2 linked regions of the Homo sapiens genome follow. The protein of the gene in region 1 interacts with the protein of each later gene in a pairwise test. Each region holds a gene or a part of one and is shown on either strand. Other genes may lie near its edges.

Region 1 (3,750 bases):
ATTGAGTCATGAGGGCGTTATTACATGAGGGAAGCCTGGTCCGTAGCTTTGGGCTCGGGCATCTTCCTCAGGATGTCAGTGGGTTTGTGTAGAGGATTCTCTGGGTCACCCAAACTTGCACACTTTGGGAACCCAGCAAACTTTCTTTCTTTTTTTAAAAAATCTATTCTTTTTTTCAAAGTTCAGTAACTTGCCCATCTTTTGTGGTTTGATTTGTTTTGTTTTGTTTTTGTTTTTAAGAGATGGGGTCTTGCTCTGTCACCCAGGCTGGAATGCAGTGGTGCCATCACAGCTCACTGCAGCCTTGAACTCCTGGGTTCAAGAGATCCTCCCACCTCAGCTTCCTGAGTAGCTAGGATCACAGGCGCATGCCACCATGGCCAGCTAATTTTAAATATTTTTTTTTGTAGAGACAGGGTCCCACTATGTTGCCCAGGCTGGTCTCAAACCCTTGGCCTCAAGTGATTCTCCTGCCTTGGCCTCCCAACGCGCTGGGATTACAGGCATGAGCCACCGAGCCCAGTCTAGAGAAATTTCTTAAATTGGGTCTCTTGGGTCCTGGCTTTTTGTCAACCTGAAGCACGTTCTAAGTCGATGGTAGAAAGTGGACACCCCCAGAAGACACTTTTGCCCAGAAATCTCTTTCTTCCTGACCCCTCTTCCCCAGAGTGCCCGGAATTCCACTGTCAGAAATGCATTGTCTGGGTTAAAAAACTTAACACCTGCTATGATTTCAACAGTGTCAAAACAGGATACGTCAAAACTGGGCGAGGAGGAAATGTATTTGGGTTCTAGGATAGTGAAAGCTCTATTTTTTCTACTTTTCTGTATTTTCCATATTTGGTACAATGAGCACGTACTTAGAACGGTTTTAGATTTACGAAAATATTGCAAACACAGTACAGATAGTTCTTGCGTCCCCCATGCCTAGTTCCTCTATTGCTAACGTCTCAACGTTAGTGTGGTGCGTTTGTTGCAATGGGTGAATGAATATTCGTGGGCTGTTATTAAAGTCAGTGCTTCACCCCTATTTCCCCAGCTTTCCTCTTACATCCTTTTTCTGTTCCAAGATTGCATCCAGGATGCCGCGTTACATTTAGTCTTCACACTTCCTTAGGTTCCTCTTGGTATGATGGTTTCTCAGATTTTTCTTGTTTTTGATAATCTTGACAGTTCGAGGAGTATTTGTCAGGCATTTTGTCAAATGTTCTTCAACTGGGGTCTCTGGTGGTTTTCTCATGATTAGTCTGGGAATGTGCTTTTGGGAGGAAGACCACAGAGATGATGTGCCAGTCTCAGAACATCGTACTAAGAAAAGGTTCTGCCAACTTGACTTACCACTGTTGCTGGTGACTTTGAGCCCCCGGCTGAGGTTACTCCTTTGTAAAGTTACTCTTTTTTTCTCCTTTCCATGCTGTATGTTTTAGAAGGAAGTCACTATGCTGCTCCAAGCAACTCAAGTTTGATGAATGGGGAGTTCCGCCCCACCTCCTTGAGGGCAGAGTAGCTACATAAATTACTTGGAATTTCTCAAGGAGATTTGTCTGTACTCCCAGTTTATTATATAAATAAATGATTTATTTATATTACAGGGACCCAGGGATCTTTACTGTATGCTTTGGGTTATAATCCAATGGTACTTTACTTTGTGGCTCAAGTATACTACTTTTAAATTGGAAAAAAAAAAAAGTACGGCCAGGTGCGGTGGCTCATGCCTGTAATCCCAGCATTTTGGGAGGTTGAGGCGGGTGGATCACTTGAGGTCAGGACAAAACCCTGTCTTTACTAAAAATACAAAAAATTAGCTGGGCATGATGGCGGGAGCCTGTAGTCCAAGCTACGCGGGAGGCTGAGGCAGGAGAATTGCTTGAACCTGGGAGGTGGAGGTTGCAGTGAGCCGAGATCGCGCCACTGCGCTCTAGCCTGACAGAGTGAGACTCTTTAAAAAAAAAAAAGGTAAAGCATTCAAATCATAGTATTTGAAGAAGGAGTCTCTATTGCCCTGACCTCGTGCAGGTAAGTTCACCCATGTGCCCAGCCCCAGGCCGGGATACAGCCCTGACTCATTCACGGCCTCTGCCCTTGAGGGGCCAGTCTGCCAAGGAAAAACCGACGAGGACAATGGATGACATTGCTGGCTATGATGGGGGCACAGATGTAGGGCTGGAGGTTGGGATTCTGGAATAGCTTCTTGGAGGAGGTCTGAGTCTTAAGGATGAGTAGGGCTTTGCTTGGGCACCTTGGAAAAGAGGTCACGCTGGGCGGGGGGAGTAGCATGACACAGGCTTGGAGGGGAAGGACCCTGCAGTGCTTCAGAGACCTAGCAGGTTTGTCAAGCTGGGTTAGGAGGGGTGGCCACGAGGTGTGTCGGGGAGGAGGGTGGAGAGGTCCCCAGGGGTGGGACCTGCCCGAGTCCTTTGCTTTTACAAGCTTCAGAGCTAAGAAGATGGATCTCTCTTCGGCCTATCAGCTCATTTTGCAGATGGGAAAACAGGTCCAGCAGGGCCCCTTACTTGCTCCAGGACACATGGAGAGATGGGGCAGGAGCTTGCTTCAGGTCCCCCTGCTGGCACACAGGTGTGTGGAATGATCCAGAAAGTGGGCAAATGAGTTCCTTCCCTGCCCCATGGCTGGGGTGGTGTGTCTGTCTGGGAGGCCCTGCCCTCATCCAGCCTCCCACCATTCATTTCTTCTTTATGGTCCAGTTTACGGGAAGCTTCCTCCTCCAGGAAGCTCTCCTGATTTGTCCTCCTTAGAACTCCTGGGGCTCTTTTCTCTGCTCCACTTTGGGGGCAGTGATTTGTGATTGAAAGGAACACAGGCCCATCTCCATTACTTACCAGCAGTGTGACTTGAGCAGGCGGGCACCTTTGTTATCTGAGCCTTGCCTTCCTCATCTGTAAATGGGGCCAGTGGTCCCTGCCTCAAAAGTGATCATTTGGAGGAGACCCTAGCGAAGCCGGGTGGAGGGCTAGCAGGTGAGTGCCTGAAGTGGGCTGTGGAAGAAGAACACAAGGCCCCCCGCCCCTTTTTTTTGAGACTGAGTCTTGCTCTATCACCCAGGCTGGAGTGCAGTGGCGTGATCCTGGCTCACTGCAACCTCTGCCTCCCGGGTTCAAGTGATTCTTGTGCCTCAGCCTCCCAAGTAGCTGGAATCACAGGTGTGTGCCATCATGCCCGGCTAAGTTTTGTATCGTTAGGAGAGATGGGGTTTCACCATGTTGGCCAGGCTGGTCTTGAACTCCTGACCTCAAGTGATCCACCAGCCTCAGCCTCCCAAAGTGCTGGGATTATAGGCGTGGGCCATAGTGCCTGGCCCCACTCCTCTGTTGAAAGTTCATCTGTTTGGGGTTGAAAAATGGGTCCAAACTGCCAGGTGGGGAAAACCCTGGGTGAGAATCTGTTAGAACTTGCCACCTTTATGTCCAGTGCCCCTGGGCTGGACAGAGAGGCCACGTTCTCTGCCACTGCAGCTCTGTGCGCTTCACGGAGGGGTGAGGAGGCCGGTGGGGGCAGGGTGGGAGTTGTAGCCCCTCCTCAGTGTCAGAACTGAGTTGTTCTCCTCACCTCAGGGGTGTGAACCCCAGCTTCTAAAAGCAGGAGGCCCCCATGGCCCATCCCACCCAGAGAGTGGCTGAAGGGCCTAGCCTGGCCTGGCCGAGACTTCTCTGTTGCCAACCTGGCCCCGAGGCCTCCAGGAAGTGAGGCTTTTATTTTGAGCCTAGAGCATCAGCCTGGAACCAGGACTTC
Region 2 (3,750 bases), on another chromosome or scaffold:
GCAGCCACTTAGCCTCCCTGTGTTTGTGGGGTAACAACCCGAGTTCATGTTGTGGGCATCTCATGCAGTGTAGTAGCTGGTCACTGTCAAGTGTCACTATTTCATTGAGTCAGAAGCCTGCAGAATTGTTCTCATTCCAGGGAGTGAGTCAGTCTGCTGTTGCTTACTCTCGGTGCTGGCTGAGCTCAGCAACCTGCTCTCTTCCTTCAGTTCAGGTTTCTCCAGGGCAAAGAAGTCTTTATTGTTCCTTTCTGTATGACCAGATGGGAAATGAATTATAATATAGTCCTTAGATTATATTCCCACCTGGTAGCAATGCACTGAGTTACCTGACCTGAAATTTGTTGGACTTAGTCTCCATGGAGGAGGATTTACCATCTTCGTTGTCTCAGAAGTCCTGGTAGTGCCTCATGCCAGCAATTTAGCAGGAGCAAAAGCTTTGAGACAGTGTTCTGGATCTGCTGAGCTGGTCTAAAGGAACCTCTTTTGCTTGAAGTAACTGTGATAGGAACTTTGTTACTGCTTCTGTTAGCTCAGGTGTTGGAATGAGAATCAGCAGCTGATGAGGTGAACAGCTAGGAGTACTGGAATTATGGAGTAGTGGAGGTAGATTTTATAAACAGAGGGTCCCAGTTTTTTGGAAATGGGAAAGAGAGAGGGTAGACTGGCCTTTCTAGAATTTGTAACAGAAAAGAGGACCCAGGAGCTTCCATTGACTAGTTAGTTAATGCAGTGCGGGATCTTAGCTGGTTTGCTTGGTCCAATTCCTGTCTCTCGGTTTCTTTTTTCCCTTCCCTTCGCTGCCTTCCCCTCCCTCTTCCCTTTTTCTTTCCAAGAGAATTGAGTCACTCCATATAAAAGAAGCAGCCAGTTGGCTAAAAAGTCCAACAAAAAACAAGTATTTATAGCTCTCCAAATTTCCCACTTGTCATTATCAGTATACTTTTGCACACAGTTATAGTCGGTGTTTGGGATCCTTTTTAAAAAAATAAAAAGTTTCTGTAGGCTTTTCCATGCATGAACACAGCTTATCAACTTGCCCCGGCTGTGCCAGGATTCCATTGTTGACTGTTGTTTGAGCAGTCATGCCCTTTGTTCTTAGGCTGTGTGTTGTTTTTTTCCTAACATCATAGTATGGCTGGGTATTATTTTGATACAGATTACAATTACTATTACTATTTCTTGAAGTGTATTTCCCAGAGTGGAATATTTTAGGATCTTTTTTTCTCTTTTGTGGGGGTGGGGAACATGTAGCTTCTTGTGGATATTAGACATTGAAGTCTAAAAAGGTTCTATATTTATGATTTGGCCCTCAATTTTCTAGAGATTCCAATGGTTCCTGCAAAGAAAAGAGCATTCAAGTATAGAAACCAGCCAGACTAAGTCTGGACATGTAGCTTTTCAGAAAGTGAAAAAAAATTATGTTTCTGCAGTTGCAAGGTGGCCTCTGAATGCCACACTGTGTGGCCACTCCCTTGGACAGTGGCTAGGCCACAGGGTCGCCTCCCCTGGCCCCAGTCTGTGGGTTGAATATGCTAACCGAGCCTTCCCAGGAGCCTCCTCTGCCCCCAGCCCCCAGGTCTGTACAGATGGTAGTTGGTACTTTCAGCCCGCCTTGAGAACTCAGTATTCTTCCTGTTAGCTTTCCTTCAAAGTAAAATCGGTAGAACCTATTTTGAGTGTAGAAAATTTGAAGTCGTGGACAGCAGATTACAAAAAATTGCCCACCACCATGCCTGGCTCATTTTTGTATTTCTAGTAGAGATGGGCTTTCACCATGTTGGCCAGGCTGGTCTCGAACTGCTGACCTCAGGTGATCTGCCCACCTCGGCCTCCCTAAATGCTGGGATTATAGGTGCGAACCACTGTGCCTGGCTCCTTTTTGTATTTTTCGGAGAAGCACAAGGACTTGTTGTTTAATTAAGCAAGACTATACTCTCCCAGAGCATGCAGTTATTATTGAGTAAAACACAGTTAATGAGATTTAATCACGTTCCCTATCACTGTTGTGCAGCATGATAAGTAGGTGCAAATGGCAAGAAGCACGCTGAAGTTACTGCAGTTGGTAACCTGGGCCATGGATGGCACTTGTCTTTGCCTCATTTTGCCTGTAAGAAGCATGGGGCCTGTGGTCCTGGGGTACCTGGACCCTCAGCCTGGTGTGTGTGTGCCCTCAGCCTGGTCCTTTACTTCCATCACCCATCTAGAGGCTCCAGGACCCTTTACTGCACCCCTCCCTCCTCTAGATAGCTCAGTGTTTTCATCCCAGCACCTTTTTCTCTGCTGCCTGAGAACTGAGCAGCCAGAGACAAATTTTGGCTCTCAGGGTCCTCAAGGGTGTACAGCAAAGCTGTTCTTATTATTTAAAGTATTTTATTTATTTATTTTTGAGACAGAGTCTTACTTTGTCGGCCAGGCTGGAGTGCAGTGGCATGATCTCGACTCACTGCAACCTCTGTCTCCCAGGCTCAAGAAATCCTCCTACATCAGCCTCCCAAGTAGCTGGGATTACAGGCTGGAGTGCAGTGGCTCCATCTCGGCTCACTGCAACCTCCGCCTCCCAGGTTCAAGCGATTCTCCTGCCTCAGCCTCCTGAGTAGCTGGGATTACAGGTGTGTGCCACCATGCCTGGCTAATTTTTGTATTTTTAGTAGAGACAGGGTTTTACCATGTTGGCCAGGCCGGTCTCGGACTCCTGACCTCCTGATCTGCCCACCTCGGCCTCCCAAAGTGTTGGGATTACAGGCGTGAGCCACCGCGCCCGGCTAGCAAAGCTGTACTTTTACCAAAAAAAAAAAAGAAAACATTTATAAATCAAGGTCTGAAGGCCCATGTGAGGCTTATTCTACAGCTTGCAATGCCTGTTTTTGCCCCTTGGTAAGTGGACGCACAGCTGGGCAGCCTTATGCTATCTCTGTGAACTACCCATTTCTGGCTTTGTTCATAATATTCCCTTGATCTGGAGGCCCTCCCCCAGCCCTGCCCCAAATCCTGTCTGTGTTGAGGGTCCTGCCCCAGGAAGCCCTCTGCATACTCTTCCCTGCATGTAATACCTGCCTGCTTTCACATTCTTCTAGACTGTGCTGTGCATCGTACAGTTCATCAGCATTATTGCAGAGTAGAGTGTCTCTGATTTGGAGTCAAGAGAAGGTTCCATTTTTCTGTACATCCCGATGTTTATTTTCTGAGTGTTCTCAGACATCACTAAGCCTCAGTCAAAATAAAGTATGATCATGATGTAACATTCATTGAGTGCTTATCACATGGTAGGCATTGTGCTATATGAGTTATTGCTTGACTTCCTAAAATAATCCCAGTAGAGATGCTAAATCTAAAGGTGAGAGAGATGGTTCAAAAAGACCTCAGTGAGCAAACCATGTACTATAATATCCTAAAAGATAACAAAAATGTAACTAGGTATCTAGAGAAAACTCAGGAAGGATATGTGCCTTGGGCCTTTTAAGGACCATTTCTTAACACTTCTGTGTTCTTCTTGACACCTGTTTCTGGGTAGAGCACATAGAAAATGCTCAGTAAATAAGTTCTTTTTCCTTGGCCCAGTTTGGCCTGATTTGGCCCCAGTTCTGTCTTTGTGAGTTACTTTATTAGTTGTCGGTGCTACTGTGCTGCTATTCATGTGGAAGATTCCCCAAATGGGCTGCGCCTTACATTGCCTGAGCAGAAGCCCCGAGGGATGGAGGATGAGCTTGCCTTGTTATGGGACTGTGTTTCCCTGGCTGACAAAGGCTC

What was found.
Region 2: the proteins of LAPTM5 (region 1) and HMOX2 interact in binary tests that used the Homo sapiens proteins (3 or more experiments, as listed by UniProt).

What each region holds. Positions count from the first base shown.
Region 1 is NC_000001.11:30,751,025-30,754,774, reverse strand, and holds part of LAPTM5 (lysosomal-associated transmembrane protein 5), read left to right. Parts: intron 1-2,414; exon of another isoform or gene 2,415-3,750. UniProt on the Homo sapiens protein: May have a special functional role during embryogenesis and in adult hematopoietic cells.
Region 2 is NC_000016.10:4,500,348-4,504,097, forward strand, and holds part of HMOX2 (heme oxygenase 2), read left to right. Parts: intron 1-2,396; exon of another isoform or gene 2,397-2,612; intron 2,613-3,750.